Linked DNA regions of Homo sapiens. The protein of the gene in region 2 binds, or shares a complex with, the protein of the main gene of each other region. Each region holds a gene or a part of one and is shown on either strand. Other genes may lie near its edges. The genes, in order: MED12, CDK8 and MED13. A codon is read from its position in the direction of its gene.

Region 1 (7,107 bases), on a different chromosome or scaffold from region 2:
AGCCAGCGAGTCATGAAAAGATAGGTCACTGACCTGGAGGAAAAAACAGACAGACACCATGACTCAGTGTGGAGGCCCACTCAAAGCGGTGTGCCTCCACTCTACGGAACTCTGTCCCTGGTCAGAGGATCACAACCAGCCCCCTGCCCTGGTCACTGCCCCACTAGCAAAACCCCACCCCAAGTCTCACATCAACATTGCAGAGGAGATCGTTGAAACCACAAGTGCCATTGTTAGAGGAGCAGCACAAGGCCTTAAGCACTCCTAGCCATTCTGCACTCAGTGACTTGCAATAGCCGGTCAGCTCTGCACACAGGATTGCGATGTCATTCACCCTAGGGAAAAGTACAAATGCCCTCAGGAAAAACCTTGCTCCACAAAACCTCAGACCCATTAACTTCTCATCTCTGCCCCACTAAATAATCAAGGTTGTAGTACCTCCCGGGTACCTCAGCCCTCCCTATCTCAGATGGGGGCATGGTGCCCTTCCTCACTCAGTACACCCCATACCTATCGGGATCATGGTGCCCCACACAGACGTGCATAAGGGCATTGCAGACAAAGCTGTAGCGGTTAGCAGGGTTCTCACTAAGACTCTTGCCTAGCCCCGTGTAGGTGAAGGTGTGAGCTGCAGGGTTCTCTAGAGTGTCGATCATGAACTCAGGTGCCCAGCGCATATTTGATTCCGATGGCTCCACGTTGCAGTAGATGGTGTTCTTCACCTTTGAGCAAAAGTCGCTGCAGGGATGGAGGAAAGGAGATAGTAGTGTTGAAGAAGGCCTGCTGAGGTCGAGGGATGGTCAGGAAAGGGGAGAAAAGAAAAAAAGGAGAAAGTGAGGGATGAAGGATCTTGAGACAAGAAAAGGGAGATGGGACAAAACAGACTGGGCAGGAAAGGAACCACATGGGAATAAGGAACTGGGGCCTCTGAAGGCAGTGAGGAAAAGGGGGAAGAGGGTGGGCCCCACAGATATAGGCGGGGAGCAAGCCTGCTGAGGAAGAGGGCCCACTCTTGGTAACACAACAGTATGTGGAGGACACAGTCCACAAATGACCCTAGACAGGCAGCAGGGTCCCGGGCCATCCTCTCCTCCTGAGTTGGGTGGTCATGGGAAGAAGGGAGTAGGTCCCACTCGCTACCCCTTACCTTCCACCTCTCTTACCTGAAGAGCTCCCCAAATTTGTTCTTTAAATGGCTACAGGAGGTGTACAGATCATAGAGATAAGCAAGGATACAGCGCTCTGCAGAGGAGCCATCGGACCGGTTCATCCCATGCTTCACGACGCCACACAGCCTGCATGAAGAAGCAAGGTTGGGAGGGTCAGCAGATGGTATGCGGGCTCCTCCAAACAGATTCAAGCCTCTGGGAAATACCATTCTTTTCCCACCTGAGCAGCAGGTGCTTCCCCAGAGTGTGAGGAAGTGCATGCTCTTCCCAGGCCACTTCCACCGGCATTCGCCAGAGCTTTGTTTCAGTTATTCCGAAGCTCTGCTTACCCCTCAAAGACCTGTGCCATCTGGTCCTGGTTGAGGATGAGGCAGGCATGATAGTGCCGCAGGACAGCCACGATGCACAGGCACAGGCTAGTAGTGTAGCTGCCCACCAGATCCGAGGATTTGAGAAGCAGCTCAGCCTCAACTACACTCAGTTCATTCAGCAGCTAGCAGAGTAAACGGGGGTGAGAAATGCAAAGAGGCCCCTTGTGTTACATAGAAACCACCTTCCTGTGGGGACGCTGGCAAGGCTGGGCCTGAGCCCCTTCCTGCTGGAGCCACCACAGGATAGAAGGGCTCGTTACCCTATGCCACAGTCTATCAACAACACCTCTATTGATAGTTTATTGTTGATAGTTTATTCTATCAACAACACCTCTAACCAGTGTCCAGGATACAGTTCTATGAACTCCACAGTGGGAGGATGGTCTGTGCCCAATGCTCTAATCTGCCTCTTGGCCTCCCCAGGGAGCACTTAAGTCTCTATTCCTGCAGTCTTAGCTCATGTTCCACTCCCCCCATGCTAGTCTTTCTGCCCCTTCAAATAGCTTGGGAAACTGGCTGGAGCCTCTACGCCTGTCCTTATGACCCTCCGTAGCCGCTATATGGCATGAACTCCTGCCTCCACCCTCATCTCCCCAACTTCCCCACCTGAATGGCAAAGTCGATGAGGCCACTGATGCTGAGTGAATATTCCATGAGGTCGAAGATGAACTGCACATGCTGCACCAGAGGCAAGTGGTATGACATGCCAAGGGCAAAGCTCGTGATCTGCTCCAGAACATTCCGGGAGACCTGATAAGGGCAGTGGGAGTGAGATGGGAGTGGAGAGAGGAAAGAACCAGGGAAGGAGGAAAGGATGACACTGGAAGGGGATGAGACCAGGAGGCTTAGCCTGCCTAGCAGGGAGAAGATAGGGAAGAAAAGGAAAACAGAACAGGAGGCCAGAATGTGGGAAAGGGGCTGGGCTTAGGCCCACACCTGAGCCGTGACCTGGTGTTGGTCATAATGTGAAAGGTGCTGGAACTTAGCAAAGATATCTTCAGCAGTGGGGAAGGCTTCAGGCCGGTTGCGTCGCCGCTTCTGCCCATCCTCCCCACCTGAGGGGACAGTTGAAAGGGACCAGTCAAGACAGGGAAGATAACTAGTTGACTAGGGGTGGGGAGTGGGGTATGGAGAGAAGGCTATGGGAGGGAGGGAGGGAGAGATGGAAGGAGGGAGGGAGGGAAGGAAGGAAGAGGGAAACAGGGAAGGGAGGGTCAAGGAAGGGATGGGGGAGGAATGAAGGGAAGGGGACAGTGAAGCAAAGGTTTAGAGGACCACAGACTATGTGGACCTTAAAGGAATATGTACAGGGAGGTGCTAGGTTCAGGGAGGGAAGGGAGAGGGAGGGAGGGCAGTATGGGGCTTACTGTGAGGTACCTAAGAATGTCAGGTCTCCAGGATTCAGAGGCACAATAGGAGCAAGCTGGTCTGTAGAGGGGGGGAATGAGGGGGGAAGTTTCAAAAGGACTAGAGCTCTCAGGAGACTCCAAGAGACAGGACATTGGGACATGACTGGGGAGTTCCCTATACTGGGGAAGGGAAGACTGACTAGGGCATTCTTTGGGGGAGATCTGTTTAAGGAGCCTCAAACCCACCAGTTTCTGCTGTCCCTTTGCGGTTCAGAACCTTCAAGATATCCTTGGTGATTTTCTTGATGGCATGGCGGGCATCATCTCGCTGCTTTCCCACCCCAAACAGTACGACCAACCGCTGGTTGCACTCATGGCTGCATGACTCCTCCTGCATCCCAGCAGCACCATCAGACTCCAGCACCGATCTCCTTCCCTCCTCTTGAAAGCATGCTCCACACCCCTCAGCATCCACATGCTAAAGCCCTTCCCTTTCCCAACCCACATCCTCAGAACAGCTCCAACCCCTCAGCAAATTCCTTTGACAGCAATCTGGGTTCAAAACAGATCATCACAAGGTGCTGGGGAATAGTACCTGGGGGATGGGAAAATGGGTGGCGTACTGCACGTGTCGTGGCTGGTCGTAAAGAACCCCAAGGGTCCCTTCAATCTTCTCCTTGGGTGGGGGCTTCACCTCCTTCTCGACATCTGGCTTCTCAGGGGATGGACTGCCCTTCCCCTCACAGGGCATAGTAGGGGAGAACAACTGAGAGAAAGGTGAGAAAGCAGAACATGAGAAGAAGGAAAGTGGATGAGGGGGCAAAAAAACATGCCAAAAGCAGGCATAATGGGAAGATCCAAGGATCCAGATTCTGCCACGCTCAGGATTGAACTTACTGAGAAATCAGGCTTCTCCATGTCCTCAAAGAGAACACTGGAACTAGGGTCAATGTCCATAGATTCTGAGAGCCCTGGATCCTGAGGGCATAGAACATAAGCGAAGTTGCTTTAGCCCTAGGGAGTGGCTCCCACCATCTGTAAAACTTCATTGGGGAAGTGGAGAGAGAAGACCAGATTGGGGAAAGCACAGGATCTGGAGTCAAGCCTCATCCAATCACTTAACCAGTATAGGCCTCTGTTTTCTTCAGTTTGAAAATGGGGATAAGAGTACCTCACAAGGCTGATGGGAGGAACCAATGAAACAATTGATGTGAGAGTGCTTGGTCAATCACCAAGTGCTAAGAAAAATACTACCCCCCTCCCCCAGGCAAAAGAGGCTCTTAGAGGCCCCTGGGAGCCATGAAGATGGAAATGTCAGAAGAAACGATCTAGTGCAAGGAAAAGCCCACTCACTTCCAGCTTGCTGCTGCTGCTGCCTTCAGCCTCCTTGTGCTCTGGGTCATCGGCAGGATCATCAAAGGGAGAGGGAGGCCGGGGACCAGGGGCTCCAAAGGCAAGGTCCCCTCGGGAGATGAGAGTGCAAGTATACATGTTGTGGGAGAAAACATCATGTCGAATCAGTTCACAGAACAGCAGTACTAAGTTAAAGAATTCCACCCGCTCACTCTCACTTCGAGGGTCCGCTGGAGGAAGGGAATGAGGAAACATAAGTTAGGAGAACACAAAAAGGTGGGCCAAAAGAGAGAGGGACACACCTAAGGCAATAATAAGAGTGATCAAATAGAAATCCCAGAAATTGTTGAGGGACAAAGTGTGGTTGGTTACCCCACATGCTGTCCCACACATCATCTCAGAAAGGAATGTAACATCTTTGTTGCGATTTATGCAGTGAAAATGCTTCAATCACAAGCTCTTGTTTTTATCCTTCTCTGTATTTCTCTACTCTGTTTAACTGTAAGATGACCAGTTAAAGAGGATCACTAGAACTACATCTAAAAGTCATTCTGCATAGAGCCCAAGAGAGAAATATAGACCAGAGGGCTGTTAATTATGCTTTCTGATGACAGTGGTGGGTAACTGAGTCTAGGCAGAGGTAACTAGAGAGTGGTAGGGGTCCGTACTCAGCATGGGAGCCTGTGTATCCAGAAACTGCAGGAGGACATCCTGGAAAATGGGAGCACTGGGAGCAGAAAGGGAGCCAGAGGCGATGGAACCCTTCTCATCTGCGGCTTCTGATTCTCCACAACGCTGCAAGATGACAGAACAAATTGTAGAACTGACTTTTACCTGCTTCTTCACTCCTCAATGTGTAGGCCTTAAACTACCACCTGCTTGACCTCTACCCCATGCTTTTCACTTTCATTCCCCTGCTGACCTCCATGTTCTTTACCACCTCCCAACTGAAGCCTTGATGTTATCTCTAACTCTTACTACAATCCACTCTTCTCTACTTTCGCCTCACGTCCGTAACTTTGCCTTTAGGTTCTCTTTTGCTTCTTTACTCTGTTCTCACACCTTCAACTCTGGTCCCTCCACCACCTCCATCTCTCGGTCTCCAACCGCAGTAAATTCCTTCCCATTGGCCAATCTTGTTCTCTTATCTCTGCCCTCTAACCTCAGCCTCAATCTCCGCCTGTCTCTTCTCCAGGAGCTTGGCTACCACCATAGCACGATGCCGACCAGAACGCTTGCAGCTGACAGCCCATTCACATAGCAATGACACCACAGCATCATCATCTGAGGAGATCTGGAGAACAAAGGAAGAGAAGGAGGAGTAAGGTAGGGGTGGGGACAAAGAAATGAGTTCCAATTTCCTAAAGACTGGGCTCTATCATAAAACATCCTGGGCCCAGTAAGATCATTTCTGCAGATATGCTCTGCTTTCAATGCCTCACCATGACTTCCCTCTCAGACATATTATTGCTCTTGCAATGTTTTTTGCTCCTTCTATTCCCCTTTTCGCTTACCTCATGCCCATCCTTGCTAGGTCCCAATCCAAAGATTCGGTTACAAAGGGAGTCAAGAGAGTTGCTGAAGTCAGAGCGTTCAAAACTATGGCTGTCCAGCACTTCCAAAGTATGAAGTACCCGTCCAATGGTGAAGCCTAAGGAGGAAAAGTGGTAAAGGGGACTGAACCAGAGGCCCGGTGCATTCTGGCTCTTAGATCTACATGTCCTTACTATCCCCATCCTTTCCTCAAACATATTTCCTATTATCTGTTCTCTGACACATACCTGCAGTAGCTTCCTGGCATTTATCGAAAGACCAGCGAACTTCAACTGCCTGTCCCCGCTCCTTGATCTGCTGCTCGATCTCCCGCAACTTTGCACGGACCTGCAATGTTAAAAAGGAAGGCTACAAGGATGTACCAAGGCATATAAAAGGCCAGAGCCCCAGGCTAGAAGAATAGTACTAGACTCCAAATCACTACTTCTGAAAGAGTAATTTAGCCTCATAGCCCAATCTGAGAGTACCAGGCTAGTGGTCAGACATACCTGCTGAGTGAAGGCACTGTTACCCTCTGGCATGGGCAGGTTGGACGGGGCAATAGGCAAGTGGTCAAGTGGTGAGCCGGTCTTAATTCTGCTATCAGTCAGTGAGTAGTGCCAAACCAAGGCACTAGGACAGCACAGGAGGATGGTCTACCAGATAGAAACAGCTAAGTCCAACTCATTCACCATGGTTACCCCTCTGGAATCCCATTCTAAGACCCAACCCGTAGATTCCAGATCCAAAGTTATTCTGACTGGGTCCCCAAGACAGGCATCACTCCACCCCGATCCCCTCCCTTCACTCACTTTCCTAAAAGGCTTTGGGCCCACTATTTAGCCTTGGAAGGGAGAGAGAGGCTGGTGAAAACCCCCAAAGGGGACTAACACCCCATTACCAAGAAACAACAACCTCCAAGCAAGTACTCAGCACCTACTCCCACATCCAATTTGGAATTACCCCTATTCTCTGGGATGGGCACCTGATTCTTCTCAGGCTATCTCTCAATGCTTCCTTGGGCCCGCCTAGTACCTACCTGTAGGATACAGCTGAGGCCAAAAACCAGGGGCCGGTGCTGAGGGCACATAAGCAGGTCACTAAAGGGAGTCGAGGGTGTGCTGCTAGTTGGGGGCTGAGGAGCAGGGGTGGTGGGTAGCGTGCTTGTTGACTGAGCAGATATAACATGAGATGAGTGACTGCTCACACCATCCAGCTGCAGGGCCAGTCTCCGTGTACAGAAGTAGGCAAGCCGGCGGGACAGGTATGCAGACTGAACAAATTCCCCAGAGTACTGTGAAGACACGACCATCAGAGCCCCTAGTTCTCTCC
Region 2 (7,609 bases):
ATCTCAGCTGCAGAATATATAATGTAATTTGAAAGTAAATCAATACTAGAAACAAATTATTTGATCATCATCTTATTATGAAAGATTAAACAGCCACAAATTTTATTTTACCAGGACTAAAATGCATTAAATTACATTTCACTGACATAAGATCAAAAGAACCTCATAAATACTATGCGATACTTTACCAGAGTGAGGTTACAAAGAGAAGTCAAACCGAAAAAAATCCCTGTAATTTTAAAACTCTCTAAAACTATCTCTAAAAGATAGTAATTTTAAAACTCTCTTGACATTTGATCCATTAAAAATAGAAGTTCATCACATAAAGAGAATCATTAAAGACTGATGGAAAACAAACTCCAAGGATTACAAATAATAAGTTCTTTTTTCCAAAATGCAATGTTACTTTTCAGCTGTCACAGATGACTAAGAATGTCCATACATTATACCTTCAACTATCTTTAAATTCAAAGATATTGAAATTATTCTTTCAAATTATTCTTAACGGCCTAAATTAAAACCTGACCATAGAGATATAAAATGTGCTTAAGTACCCCCTGCCAATACACAGTATTAGTTTTCTAATAAAATGTACAACGTTAAAACAAATATGCATATTTTATTAGCTTAAATTGGTAATTTATGAAAACAGAACCGGCTTCTCTCACACAGATTAAAAATAATGCAAAGGCGCTAGAATTTTATATAACATGTCAGTTTGGTCAAATGTACTGTAATGTCTAATCTCATGGGATTGGGGATTTTATGAATATGCCCAAAATTACATAATACTGGGGGAAGGGGAGATGGTTTAAAGCTTTTGAGAAATATTGTATGGTGAGTTAACAAACATAATTTTAAAAATATATGTCATTACAGAGTAAAACTTCAACAATAAGTCTAATTAGACAACAACAGAGTCAGCAATATCTCCAGACGCTGATTTCTCCAGTGTCACCAGACTATCCATTCCGCTAAAAAGTACTTTTAAATACGTGCGGCGCCCAGAATATCAAGTTTTCAAATCCAAATCCCTACCTTCTGCCGATCTGTTCCACTTTACTGTTGCATAAAAGCACTAAAATACACATTCTAAATTAATTAGAACTCCTATCTTCCTCGTAGAGTCCATTGTAAATACTTTTAGAAAGACATTTCAGTAAATCTAAGAAAAATGTCCAATAAATATACACTTTCCTTTCCAACATCCAGAATACTAAAGTATTTGTAAATATGCGCCCCCCTACCCCACAGTAGGGAACTTCAGCTTTATGAATTTTTTTTTCGTGCTAATGTAGTCTGAACATACTCTCCTACCTAATTGGAAATTTTAAGTGATTAAACATCATACAGCAGGTGACTAAACTGGGATGCTCAAGTAAAGCTACTTCGTTTCTAATAAAATCCAAGGATTATATAATAAGCTTTGACTTTTCAATAATTTTCTATTCTGTCAAAGGCAACAGAGACAACATCCATTTTACAAGAAAACATGGAGTTAATAAAATATATTTTCCCCCCAACTAAGAATTGCCTTCTCTTTTGTCAATATTACAAGACATTCATCTACTGACAAAGAGAAAAAATGAACAATTCACTTGCCTGTTAAGAAACTAAATTGGAAGCATTACCAGTCATAGGTTTAATTAAGTTGTTACTAGGGAAGAATATTTAAAGCAAAGGGATTATTTAAAGTTCACTGCCAGCCGCTAAATTTGGGGGAAACCGCCTGAACGAGATAGTCCCTATGTCACTTGCCTTCTTCCCCACCACCCACCCTGCACCAAACCCCCATTGTTCTATGTAAAAATTCACAGCTAATAATATCTAAATAGCAATTGCAACATTTATGTTGCAGATGATCACTATGGGGAACTCTCTCCAGAACCACATTCACTCGCTGCCTTCCTTTCCTCAAATAAAATACAAATTTGATAAAAAATCGATCACAAACTGGTGGGGGAAAGGATCACAGCCTTCCTTCTAGACCGATGGATGACACTCCAGAGGCGGGTGAGGAAATCCCCAGAAGGTTACCATAATAAATCGACCAAGGAAAAAAAAAAACAAAAAACATTTAACCCGGCGTTTTAGAACGAATTTTTTCATGAATCAGCTTTGAAATCCTTGAAAAGTATACAGCCCACGGTGCAGAGGCTCATCTTGCCTCTTACCACCAGAGCAGAACACAGACGCGGCACGCAGGATTTCTCGTGGGTTTGGATCCCTCGTACACCACTTCCTCCCCAAACCTGGCTGGCGGAGCCAGAGGCCGGCGTCGAGGAAGTCAGAGCCCGGCACCCCGGCGGCCCGCTCTCCCTCCGGGCTACCTGCCTCGGCCTGCGGGAGCGCCGCCCAGCGCGGACACCGGCCCAGACACACACACTCACCCATCTTTCCTCTTGGCTTTGTAGACGTGACCATAAGTGCCTCGGCCAACTTTGCAGCCCTCGTATTCAAACAGGTCCTCGACCCGCTCCCGCTCGCTGCTCAGCTTCACTTTAAAGTCATAGTCCATTGTCACAGCCTCTGAGGCCGGAGAGCTGGGTCGGGGGGCCGGGGGGCAGGGGTGGGGACCGGGGAAGCACGGGCAGCCGCAGCCCCCGGGAACCCGCCCGCTCTACGCCCGCCGGCCGCAGCACCAGCCCGACTGATGCGGCAAGAGCAGGAGGAGGCCCCGCGAAAGCGCCAGGGACATCCAGGGGGACGGCGGGGCAGAGGCCGGCCGGGGGTGGAGGAACGGGGAGGATCCCCCGGCGAAGGAGAGCCGAGGGACGAGGGCTGGGGGTGGGGAGCGGTGTCTCTGCCCTTGTCCCCGCGGGCTCCCTGGGCGCCGGCTCCGCCGCTCTCTCCGGCCGCGCGTTCTGCTCCTGCTGCGGCGGGAGCGGCGGGGCGGCCAGGCGGGCTCTCGTCCTCTCACACGCGCACTCACGCCTCACGCTCTCACACACACGCTCACACTCACTCACTCACTCACTCTCCCATACACTCAAACAGAAGGGCAGAGCCGCACAACAGCCGGTACCTCCTCAAAGAGAGGAGGAGGGAGGGCACTCGCGGAACACGGCCGCGGCTGTCGCAAAAACGTCGCGAAGCCTCGGGCTGCCTCCGGGCCACACTCTAGCCCGCTCCCGCGGTGGCTGGCCGCCCCTGCTGGCGCTGGCACCCTGAGGACCGTGTGGAGGGAGCAGGGGAGCCACTGCCCAAAGCTGCCGCCAAATGCACCACGTGGAACCAGCCCCAGCGGTGGCCGGGCCCCAGACTACAATACCCAGAATGCACAGGCCGCCGCCGCTGCCGCCCCTTCTACGACTCCGCCCCACACGGTGGGAATATGGGAGCGTTGCATGATGGGACTCGTAGTCTAGGGTGAAATTCGTTTCAATCATTTGGGGAAAATTTATTTTTATTTTTACAGCGATCTAACTAGAGTCTGATTTCAGCCACAAACTTGATCAAAGAGGTGCACGTGGGAAGGAGAGTCGTTTGCATTAGAAACACATTTTGTGCCACTCTGAACTCCAGATTTTAAAGGCCACTATCATCGATAAAAGCCGGTATGATATTTGTAAACAGCTCGCGGGCCAGCAGTTGGGGTACTCTTGGTGTTCACAATCTGATAAGGGCTGCACAATGATGTCAACATACTGACATTACAAGCACCAATAAAAGTGAATCAATGACCAGTGTCCAAGCTACTCCTAAACATTGTTACTCTTGTGACAGATGACCATCCAAACCTTTCCTATCCATATACAGGAAGTATTGAGTACAGTACAGCCTTCTGCGATACTACCTATAAGAACACCAGTTTCTAGCTATGATTACAGAAAGGATCTAAATCCATGGGAACTAGTTTGTTAATAATCTTAAGGTAGCAATATGTCCTGCTTCAGGAGTCCTGGTATCTTGATACTAATCTATCATTTTATCTTACCCCCCTTGTCTATTTTTAATTTTTGGTTTTCCAATTGTTACCATTTCCACTAAAGCTCCCCACTTCCCAAAGGGAATATGAACTTTGCAGTTTTAATGTGAACTTTTTAACACTTTTTTTCCCACCTTTCCTGTGATATTTATCAAATTCCTTTCATCTTTTATTTCCTCTACCTTGCTAGATCCTAAGTTGTTATAGGAAGTCATATTTGCATCTTCTGTAAAACCTAGTGTCATGCCTTGATAATGATGCACAGTAAACACTTGTTAAATTAATGAATGAATAAACATGTTTATCTCAAAAAGATCCATATACCAATGATGATGATGATGATATCATCTTGTGAAAAAGCCTCCAAAGGGCTTTCTCTTATATAATTTTCCTTGGAGAAAATTAGTGACTTCACCACTGTGTAAAATTAAATTGTTTTTACCTAGCATACTATATAAGTATTGAGTATTTTACTATACTGGGTTTGAATCCTGCATTGTCATTTACTAATGTGTTCTTGGAGCCTAGAATTTTTTCTTTGCAAAGTGCAAAGCACAAAACAAATGTAGGCTTTCATTAATGGCATATTATTTGTTTCCATTCAGTGATGAAAATTGGGTAACTCTCTAGCAGAACTGCTCATTTGCATCCTTAAAGAATTACATCATTTTCTGAATATGGATTTAAAAGATTCTTCCTTAGACAATGTATTTTGTATTTTTTGAGGGATGTGTCTTTTGTGCACATATTTACTCATGGATCTTGAGAAATCAAACTACCACACTGGAGGAAAAGTTGTGAAGAGGCATGGGACTCAGCTTGCCCCTACACTGTATCGGGTCCCCCTTCCCCACCTCCTGTACCAATTATACACACTATTCTGGAACACTGAAGGTCTCAGACCTTTTTTGTTTGTCTTTTTGTGTTTTTATTTTGAGACAGGGTCTGGCTATGTCACCCAGGCTGGAGTGCAGTGATGCGATCACAGCTTACTACAACCTTGAACTCCTGGGCTCAAACAATTCTCCTCCCCAGCCTCCTGAGTAGCTGGGACTACAGGCATGTGCCACTACACCCAGCTAAGTTTTTTTTTTTTTTTTTTTTTTGAGAGACGGAGTCTCGCTCTGTTGCCCAGGCTGGTCTTTAACTCCTGGGTTCAAGTGATCCTCCTGTCTCAACCTCCCAAAGTGCTGGGATTACAGGCATGAGCCACATACCTGGCCTCAGACTTTTAAAAATGTACTTTTATACACTGTTTTGGCTGGCTTCACTCTGGGTGAAGGTGAACTCTCCCTGAAGGAATTGAGTGTCCTCACTGTCAACTGAGTATCCTGAATGTCAGTCCTGACTGTCAGTCTTTTCCTGGGGGCAGGAAAAGAAGCTAACCTTGGACTAGGGAAGAGCAAGATCTGCTTTTCTCTTTGAAGCCAGGGTGAGAGTTAGAGGCCTAGACACTAGGTTGGAGGAATATGGTGGTAGGAGGTAAGCTGACCCTGTAAAATGGTATCAGGATGGGGAGCTGAGAAAGAGATAGCCACTAAGGGCCCCTTATAGGAGAGCATGGCTAATGCTAGGAACAGCAGCATCTAATATTTAGTTTTAAGTGTCTCCTTTTGTGTGTTCTTAAGGTTCTTAAGGGCTAAGATGCTTCCTCATACCATCTCTGACCTTTACAGTCCTACCCATCCCCCAAGTGCTTAATTTGGTCATGAAGTCTTTCCCAGTTCTTGCAACTAGATATGACCTTTCTTTATCATGAACCTCTACCCCAGCCCTGGCACCATTGCACTTTATTTGTAACTCATTATAGCTACCTTGTATTTTAATCATTTATTTTATGCGATTAAAAAAATCTGCCCCTTAATAAATTTAGTGACTGAGTTCCTGCCTTAATCATCTATATATCCCCTACAGTTCCAAGCACATATTGTTTGCGTAATTATATTTCATTAGAATGTGTTTCATTGGATTGATTTCAATAAATGTTGAAATGGACATTAATAATAATAAAGGTCTCCACCTGTCAGAGGACAGTCATTGTAAAACATTTAGTATCTTGCCTCAGTCTTGCCTCTAAAAAGGGCTTTTTATAGCTGCAAAAGGACTGAGTGCTTCATGATATATTAATGTAAAAGCCCAAGTGGCTCTTCTCATAGTTAATCACTGCAGTCTCTACAACTTTGACTTCCACTTTCTCACTCAGTATTAAGGCATGCTTTCAGTGGAAAGCATGTAACCTCTCATTCTACAGGTGGCACGTTCATCCCGCACATATTAACCATCTACATGTGAGCACAGTGTTCGACACAAGGAAGAACAAGTTAGATTAATCAATCCAAGAGCTTTTTTTTAATATTTCATTTTTTTCACTCTGTCTTTCTGGCCTGATTTTTAAAAAATTTTCAAAGAAACTATAGATGCAAAAAGTATCCTTACTAACTCTGCAAGCATCCAGAATATAATTTAGACCTTAGAAATAACCAGAATATAAAAAATACTTTCAAAAATATCTTACTCTTCTCCCCTTCACCATGTGGGTATCATTTGCCTTTGTGGACTCATTTCCTCCACACAACGGGAAACATGACCACCAATAGTTGCTGAATTTTACGTCAGACAATGGCTTTCATTAGCGAAGAATTGACTGTTTCTCAATTCTGGTTCTAAAAATCCCAAGAAGGGCTCTGGTATGGCTGAGTCAGGCCCGTCCTAGGCCAACTAAGTGTAGCCACAGGGACAGGACCATGCAAGAATATGAGAGCTCCTTTATTAGGGGGCATGAGGGAGATGGGGGTAGGGAGCTCACAGGAGGAAGAATGCCCTAAGTATTATAAAGGAAATAAAACAGGACAATGTGATAGAAAGTGAGACCAGGAGGAAATTCCTTTAGATTGGTAGACGGTCAAGGTTTCTCTAAGGAGACAATGCTTAAGCAGAGACCTGAAGGTTGAGAAACAAAATCTGCTGTGGATGAGGGAGCAGAGTAGTCCAGGCAGATTAAACAGACAGCAAGTGCAAAAGGCAAAGCTGGGAATGAAGGAACAGAAAGATGACAAGAATATAATGAGTAAGAGGTGAAATTGTGTGAGGTGAAGACAGAGAGGTAGACAGGGACCAGATTATATATGGCCTTTTTGACCATAGCAAGGCGTTTGGGTTTTATTTGCAGGCAACCTTTCAGAAGGTTATAAGGAGGGGAGTGACCAGATGTGATTTATGCTTTAAAAAGAATATCCTGGTGCTATGTGAAGAATTAATTGTAGGAGGCAAGATGGATGGATGGATGGATGGTGACATAGATAGATAGATAGATAGCTAGATAGATAGATAGATAAATGAATGGATAGATAGATGAGTGAATTGATGGATAGATAGAAGATAGAGGAATGAATGGATGGATGGACAAATAGGTAGACAGATTAGACAGATAGATAGATAGATAGATAGATAGATAGATAGATAGATAGATAGATGAATAGTTAGATGAATGAATGGATAGATAGATGGGTGAATAGATGAATGAACAGATGGATAATGGATATATAGATGGGTGAATAGATGATAGATGGATGAATGAATGGATGGATAGATAGATGGGTGGATGGATGGATGGATGAATGATAGATGGGTAAATGGATGGATGGATGAATGGATAGGGAGGGAGGGAGACAGATAGATAGA
Region 3 (7,107 bases), on a different chromosome or scaffold from region 2:
AAACTAAAATCTTAAGAGGAAACCCAGACCAAAATATCACTCATGCAACATTAAGTGTATTAACTGATTGATATGCAATGCCATAGTGGATGAATAGCAAATTATATGATGCAATAGCATTTAAAAACTTTTTAATCTATTCAATTTGAACATTTTAAATAATGCAACATAGTATTCTGATATTACAGTATTAACATAGTGCTTGATTAAAGATCTGCAAATCTTTGTAGTAACACATTAAGTTAAAAAATTACCTCAGAAGGTAAATATGAAGACGAAAGGAGAATATTTTAATACAGTAATCTGTGCCATACTGACAATTGAGTACGAATACAGCTGAGGATAGTTGACTAAGTAGTAAGAGCTTAATTTTAGTGGTTTAAGAAAAGTTTAGAAATATTTAAAAATTACAGCTACTTTAAAATTTAAGGATTACATATAAGTACACTTGGTGGCCTTCTGGCCAAACAATAAGGTGTACAGAAATTTATTCATACAGTGTTAATTCACAGTCCTGATAACTCAATGGCTTGCATAAGAAAGGTATGGCTAGATGTTTCTCACTGGCTGGAAGCAGACATTATATAACTAATCTTTTTAAATGACAAAATACTGAACTTCCACCCTGCTTAATAATCATGGATACCTGCACAAAAAAAAAGATGTTAGCACTGTAACAAAGAAGTCAAGGTGTTGGTAATCCACTGCTATAAAGTATAATATTTTGCTTACCTATTTAAACAAAACTACCCATATTTGTCTGTGACAGTACATTAGTAAGTCAAATCCATCATCCTGCACAAGGCTTAATTTCTCAAATAAGTCTACTGAGCTTTTCTAATGGTTATTTAATAACTTTCCATTGAGTTTGAATGGATATATGAAGGGAAGAAAAAAAATCTTATCAATAAATCCTGTATATTTGGGAACTATTCCCTGATTCCCAAATAAAAAATAATTGTGTACTGGGTTCCCTCCTTATGGCTCCATATTAAATAACCTGTCAGGGAATAATTTTAAATCTACTTTCAAATTGAGGTGTGGTTATCATAGGTTAGTGATTTTAAACAACTGAGAATATAACTTTTATTTTGTAAAGTCACTATTAAGTGTATAAAAAGGATACTCTTTTTATGGAAATTCCAAATAAGCACATTTTCCTTCAAATCTCAGACAAGTTTTTTTTTTTTTTTTAAAGAAAGTACAGAACAAAACATACCAACATAATGTGTGGTGTATTAGCATAATTTAAAAACAAATGCAGAGAGGTGATCTTTAAATTTAATATCAAAATATGCTGACCATTAGAACTGCATTATAATTTTGAAGAAATGATTGACAACCTTTGTCACCAATTGTGTTTGCTTCATAGAAAAAACAAGACTTGCTAATGTTTTCATATACACAATCTGAAGAAGTTATGTTGTTCATAAGAAAGTGATATTTAATTCTAAGCACAGAGTATTCACAAAAACAAGTTTCAGTAAAAAAAAAAACTAAAACAAACACTGAAGTAGAGTTTTGTAAATACAACTGATTTTGTCCTTGTAGATAATTAGTGAACGTACAAATAGAAATTTTGCTAGACTGCTTCCAAGAAAGCTAGGTAGACTCGGCGACTGTGAATTCAAGTCAGCAATGCAGGTAGGAGGCGAACTTGGGCTCTTTTGTGAGCAGCACTGTAGAAAGGATTTTTCAAGGGGGTACAGCCTGCATAAAAGCAGTTATCTTGGCATGTGCAAACAAGAAGGGGGAAAGTTGTATTGAAGGAGGGGTGAATTAAAGTCCCTAAAATTCAAGTCCCTTCTTTAGGGAGGTGAGAACCTCCTTGGCATATGCCCTACCTTAATCTGAGCTGTGTTATAGAAAAGTACAGACTCTGGTGTTTGGGACTGACATCTCCAAACCAAGAAAATTAAATAAATAAAAAAGGCAAGGGAAGTTTAAAAAATGGTTCTTTCACTAGTGGAATAGAGTCTGAATACCAGAATTCACTGAGAATCTATTTACACCACAGTTTGATTGCGCGCACACACACACACCCATACATATGCATACTCTCACATACATTCCCAATCTTTAATTTAAAAAAAAAAGTCAAACAATCAAGAATGACTGCTTGAAAAATAATTTGTAAAATGCCTAGAGCTGGGCTAAATTTCAACCTTATAGCAGATCCTGAAAATAAATTTCATAATAATATTTCCATGCCTAAATATGCCACTGTTAAAACTGAAAAAAATTTAAGCATGTAACATTAAACACTAAAATTAGTTTAAGCATTCAGTAGCAAATGGTTTTTCTTGTAAAACTAAGTTTCTTTCACCGGAAATGGCCTGAAATATTAGTCATAGCCCTAAACCATAGTACAAAATATAACTGAAGAATTCTCATTTTATTCTAAGTTAAACCACCTAACAATACCACTTGTATATTGCCATCATGTTATTCTGTAAAGATGTGATATATAAAATGCTGTAAGACCTGGTACCTTTTCAATTTATAAACACAGTGAACTTCATTACTGTACATGTACTCTGCAACTACAGCTTAGCTGTAAATCCTCCACACACAATGGTATGGACATTATTCCCCCTCTATCCCCGTTAAACTGTACATCGAGACAATACAAATTTACTGTCCCACCCACCCCCTTACAAAAAAATAATACTCTAAAAGCAACCCTACTGCAACTTTTTAATTAAGACGATTACATATATTTTAGACCAATTGCTTTAAAGCAAGAAGGCAGTATAAACCTTCTAGGAAAATTTTTATAAAAGAGGTTAAGAAATATAAGACAATTTATACATTTAAAAACTTACAATAAATAAGAGAAGAGATGCAGGCATTTTTGAATACTAGATACTATAATCCATACAAGAACATCTTCATGTTCTGAAGCCATATGTTGAAATTCATTGTTCCTCATGTTTCCTCTCCATGCTTTTAATATTCATTTAACATGACTGGGTACTATGGCTCATTACTTTTCACAAATACTGTGACTGGAAAAAAAAAAGGTTAATTTTGCTACGAAAATGTTATAATACGTTTTGTATGATCAGTCATCATCCTAAAGAGTTCAATAGAGTCAATGAAAAATAGCAGGGTTATAGCCCCTCCCCCCAAGTCAAAACAATATTTGTTGAAGTAATAAGAATTAGACCCCATCACAAATGACCTTCACTGAGAAGATAATTGTAACTTAATCCTGCAGCGAAACATCCATTTTTCCTTGTTCTTTTCTTGCACAGTTCCATCAAATGAAGATCACAGCATATTCATAATAAAGTTATATAACTGATTCAGCACCACAAAATGAATTGGGAGACATGAGCGTCTGTCCTGGGTTGCAGGGTCACAGGTTAGCCAGGAGAGTGCATTGTACTGTTCCAAAACAAACCTGAAAAGCAAATAAACTGCATAAGTCATTTATTTATTTCCAACCTAGATTTTGGAAGCAGTTTTCAATTATGGCATTTAAGACTCAAAGTCACCTTAAAAAAGAGTGTAACAGAGAGTCCTTGAGGGGAAAGAAGCAATTTCCATAAAAATTATTCTCAAAAGTAGATTACTCAAGTTAGAATAGCAGTGTTTATCTAGAGATCCACTGGTACACAACTGTAAATTCTTGCCAAAAATGAGAAAAATATATAAGAATCAACATTATATTCTTTTAAAGTTGCAGTGACAAACTGTTAATGGTAAAAGAGTTGTACCTGAGGACATCTGAAGTCTGATTTGAGTCAAGTGGGTGGGAGTGTTTACTGTGAAGCAGCTCGTCAGATTGCACTGAAGGCACGTGGAGGTGCAAAGAGGCCTAAGAAGGTAACAGGTAATCAATCAGTCAGCCAAACAGAAAATAATCTGCTATTTAGTTTTACCTTATTCTCCCAATATATCTTATAAAATGATGAAATACATTTTAGTCCTATGTTATGAATGAAAGCCACTATAAAAATGCTTGTTCTCTTTTAACTAATTCATTATAGAAATGTTTTTTTTTTTTTTTTTAAGTAGGGGCAGGTTCTTGTTCTGTTGACCAGGCTGGTCTTGAACTCCTGGCCTCAAACAATCCTCCTGCCTTGGCCTCCCAAAGTGCTGGGATTACACGCATGAGCCACTGTGCCTAGCCAGAAGTGATTTTTAAGTGCAAAACTTACTTTGAATCTATTTCCTTTTCTTTAGCTTTATTGTTTTTGAGACCATACAATAATCCTTAGAAAAAGAATTTCTAATTACCTGCTAAGTCTAATTTGCCTAGATGTGCAAAGTAAATGTTTAAGGAGGCACTAAATTGAGTAGTTAAACCTGAGTAGTCTGTCCTTAAGATATATGACACCCTTTATGACTACGCAGACATACCTACGTCTAGCACTGAAAAAAGTAACAGGAATAAGCATAAGCAAATAGTTTGGTTACAGCACAATAAACCTTAAACAAGCTATCTTCGGTTGAACTGAGAACACTCTAAGTAATACAGTGCACAGATGCCTGCTTTGCCCACTCAATTTCATAATAGAGGGTAGGTAAAAACTGGCACACTCATTTAGATATGGCAATGAATAGTGGGAGAAAGGAATAAACTACTCCACACTCCAATTAAATGAGTCATTTTTTTTATAAGTCAATATAGTATTAAAAAGCTATGATAAAACAATGGTGATGTTCACTGCAGTAACTCTTGGTAGATCTCATTCTGTACACTGTATAAGGTACTATTTTATATTTAGGTGTTCTCTCCTCTGCAACTGCAATACATATAGAAACTCATGTAGTACATTTAGGAATATAACCAAAAATAGCTATGTTTCAACTGTCTACAAACTCTTGATTTATGGAGTTATAAGCAAGTCTCACACTGCAAATCACTACAAATTTTTAAAATGTAATTAGTACCAGTACTCTATTCCTATGATAAAAAGGGATCTAGCTAACAACCCATTATATTTCCAAGCAAAGAGAAACAAACCAGGTGGCTTTACTGCCTACAGTATAAAACTAAAATAAGATATATGAAAAAAAAAAGTGAACAAAAAGTATGGTAAATTATGCCTTAGGTGATAGTTCATAACCAGAAGTCCTAATCTTGTTACAATGTATCTAAGGGTGAATGCCCGCTTTATACTATCCTTTCTGCAAATAAATACTGAGTAGGAAAAGCTCTAGATAGTCCCTTGGACTTTTTGTAAAGTTGTGTTTCCTGAACACATCCCCTGAAACACTAAGATAATAAACTATTAACAGGTGTTAAATAATCCTTTCCTTGTGTATTAATAAGTTTGGGAAATGCTAGGTAAACTATCTTATTTACCTCTGTTTTTCAGACTTTAGTGTGCATACATGTATTATGACTAGAAAAGAGGACAGATAGCATGTGTAGCACCCTCCCAAAGGACCAAAGAATCCTTTGTTTTGTGGAGACACCAAAGACTACTAGTATATAGAAAATCCCTGACCTCAGGTGATCTGCCTGCCTCAGCCTCCCAAAGTGCTGGGTTTACAGGTGTGAGCCACTGCACCCGGCAGCAAGTATTTAAATTAGCATGACTTGTGGATTAAAAACAGTCAACTTCCGGTGGTTTTACATAAGAATAAGTGAGTCACGGCCGGGCGCGGTGGCTCACGCCTGTAATCCCAGCACTTTGGGAGGCCGAGGCGGGCGGATCACGAGGTCAGGAGATCGAGACCATCCCGGCTAAAACGGTGAAACCCCATCTCTACTAAAAAAATACAAAAAATTAGCCGGGCGTAGTGGCGGGCGCCTGTAGTCCCAGCTACTTGGGAGGCTGAGGCAGGAGAATGGCGTGAACCCGGGAGGCGGAGCTTGCAGTGAGCCGAGATCCCGCCACTGCACTCCAGCCTGGGCGACAGAGCGAGACTCCGTCTCAAAAAAAAAAAAAGAATAAGTGAGTCACATCTAAATTTGTTATTCTGGAACAATATTAGCAGCAGTAATATAATTCTGTATAGGGCTTTTATATCTCATTTTGTGACTTATCTCCACTTCATGTTACATTGCTTACTAACAAATTCGGTTTTGTTTTTTTGAGAGAGGGTCTCCTGTCACCTAGCTGGAGTGCAGTGGCATGATCATGGCTCACTGCAGCCTCAACCTCTTGTGCTCATGCGATCCTCCCTCCTGCCCCAGCTTTTCATGTTATTAGGACTATAGGCACATGCCACCATGCCTAATATTAAAAACTTTTTAGAGAGACAAAATTTCACTATGTTGTCCAGGCTGATCACAAACTCCTGGCCTCAAGTGATCCTCCTGCCTCGACCACCCAAAGTGCTGGGATTATAGGGGTGAATCGCTGTGCCCAGCCTGAGTTTGTTGTAATAAATCACGATGAATCTGAGAGTCTCATTACTGTATTTAAAAACCACTCAGTTTTTTTTTAACACAGCAATCTACACACAGCTAGAAAAACTTTTTTAAGTAGTAAATGAAACTAAAAATCAAGTATTACAAAGATTATAAATCTTTTTTTTGTTTGTTTGTTTTGAGATGGAATCTCACTCTGTCACCCAGGCTGGAGTGCAGTGGCGCGATCTCGGCTCACTGCAACCTTTACCTGCCGGGTTCAAGTGATTCTCCTGCCTCAGTCTCCCAAATAGCTAATTTGCACGTGCCACCACGCCTGGCTAATTTTTTTGTAGTTTTAGTAGAAACGGGGTCTCACCATGTTGGCCAGACTGGTCTCAAACTGCTGACTTTGTGATCCACCTGCCTCAGCCTCCCAAAGTGCTGGGATTACAGGCATGAGCCACTGCGCCCAGCCCAAGATTATAAATCTTTTATTCCCCAAAATAATGCAGCATAACAGCAGTGCAGTATGATGTAATTCAAAGAATAACATAATAATCATTAAAAGACCCAGGTTTCAGTCTTGAGTCTATTACCAATTTATGACTTTAAACAGGTGAGTTTTTCTGAACTTAAATATGCTCACCTAGAAAATGAGAAGGTTAGACAGAGGTAATATAAAGTTTCTCTCAGCTCTAAATTTCCATATATGCAGTTGAAACAGATTGAGCATCTCCAATTTGAAAAAATCCAAAAATGGAAACAATTCTGGTCCCAAGCATTTCGAATAAGGG

The links.
Region 1: the proteins of CDK8 (region 2) and MED12 are in contact, whole or in part, in a cryo-EM structure (PDB 8TQ2), measured with the Homo sapiens proteins. Residues at the interface, in NP_001251.1 of Homo sapiens: His143, Ala144, Trp146, Phe180, Asn181, Ser182, Pro183, Pro186, Ala208, Arg209, His210, Thr212, Lys213, Met273, Pro274, Pro320; in NP_005111.2 of Homo sapiens: Pro26, Gln27, Gln31, Glu33, Asp34, Leu36, Asn40, Val41, Lys42, Gln43, Gly44, Phe45, Asn47.
Region 3: the proteins of CDK8 (region 2) and MED13 are in contact, whole or in part, in a cryo-EM structure (PDB 8TQC), measured with the Homo sapiens proteins. Residues at the interface, in NP_001251.1 of Homo sapiens: Leu9 (codon at 2,494), Glu12 (codon at 2,485), Arg13 (codon at 2,482), Arg71, Lys74, His75, Pro76, Leu81, Gln82, Lys83, Val84, Tyr133, Asp137, His140, Tyr141, Met330, Gln331, Phe335, Leu336, Leu340, Pro341, Thr342, Ser343, Asp344; in NP_005112.2 of Homo sapiens: Thr1616, Met1617, Asp1618, Arg1619, Lys1621, Val1622, Gly1623, Ile1624, Pro1625, Thr1626, Asp1627, Gly1628, Asp1629, Ser1630, Val1732, Lys1733, Thr1734, Leu1735, Thr1736, Gly1737, Phe1738.

Annotation. Positions count from the first base shown.
Region 1 is NC_000023.11:71,121,524-71,128,630, reverse strand, and holds part of MED12 (mediator of RNA polymerase II transcription subunit 12), read right to left. Parts: intron 7,070-7,107; coding exon 6,815-7,069; intron 6,432-6,814; coding exon 6,285-6,431; intron 6,124-6,284; coding exon 6,024-6,123; intron 5,894-6,023; coding exon 5,757-5,893; intron 5,537-5,756; coding exon 5,405-5,536; intron 5,038-5,404; coding exon 4,911-5,037; intron 4,473-4,910; coding exon 4,243-4,472; intron 3,868-4,242; coding exon 3,787-3,867; intron 3,656-3,786; coding exon 3,485-3,655; intron 3,281-3,484; coding exon 3,136-3,280; intron 2,969-3,135; coding exon 2,918-2,968; intron 2,596-2,917; coding exon 2,477-2,595; intron 2,291-2,476; coding exon 2,147-2,290; intron 1,663-2,146; coding exon 1,499-1,662; intron 1,296-1,498; coding exon 1,164-1,295; intron 739-1,163; coding exon 511-738; intron 336-510; coding exon 191-335; intron 34-190; coding exon 1-33. UniProt on the Homo sapiens protein: Component of the Mediator complex, a coactivator involved in the regulated transcription of nearly all RNA polymerase II-dependent genes.
Region 2 is NC_000013.11:26,249,551-26,257,159, reverse strand, and holds the start of CDK8 (cyclin-dependent kinase 8), read right to left. Parts: upstream 3,032-7,609; 5' UTR 2,519-3,031; coding exon 2,391-2,518; intron 1-2,390.
Region 3 is NC_000017.11:61,943,195-61,950,301, forward strand, and holds part of MED13 (mediator of RNA polymerase II transcription subunit 13), read right to left. Parts: intron 3,824-7,107; coding exon 3,723-3,823; intron 3,407-3,722; coding exon 3,274-3,406; 3' UTR 1-3,273. UniProt on the Homo sapiens protein: Component of the Mediator complex, a coactivator involved in the regulated transcription of nearly all RNA polymerase II-dependent genes.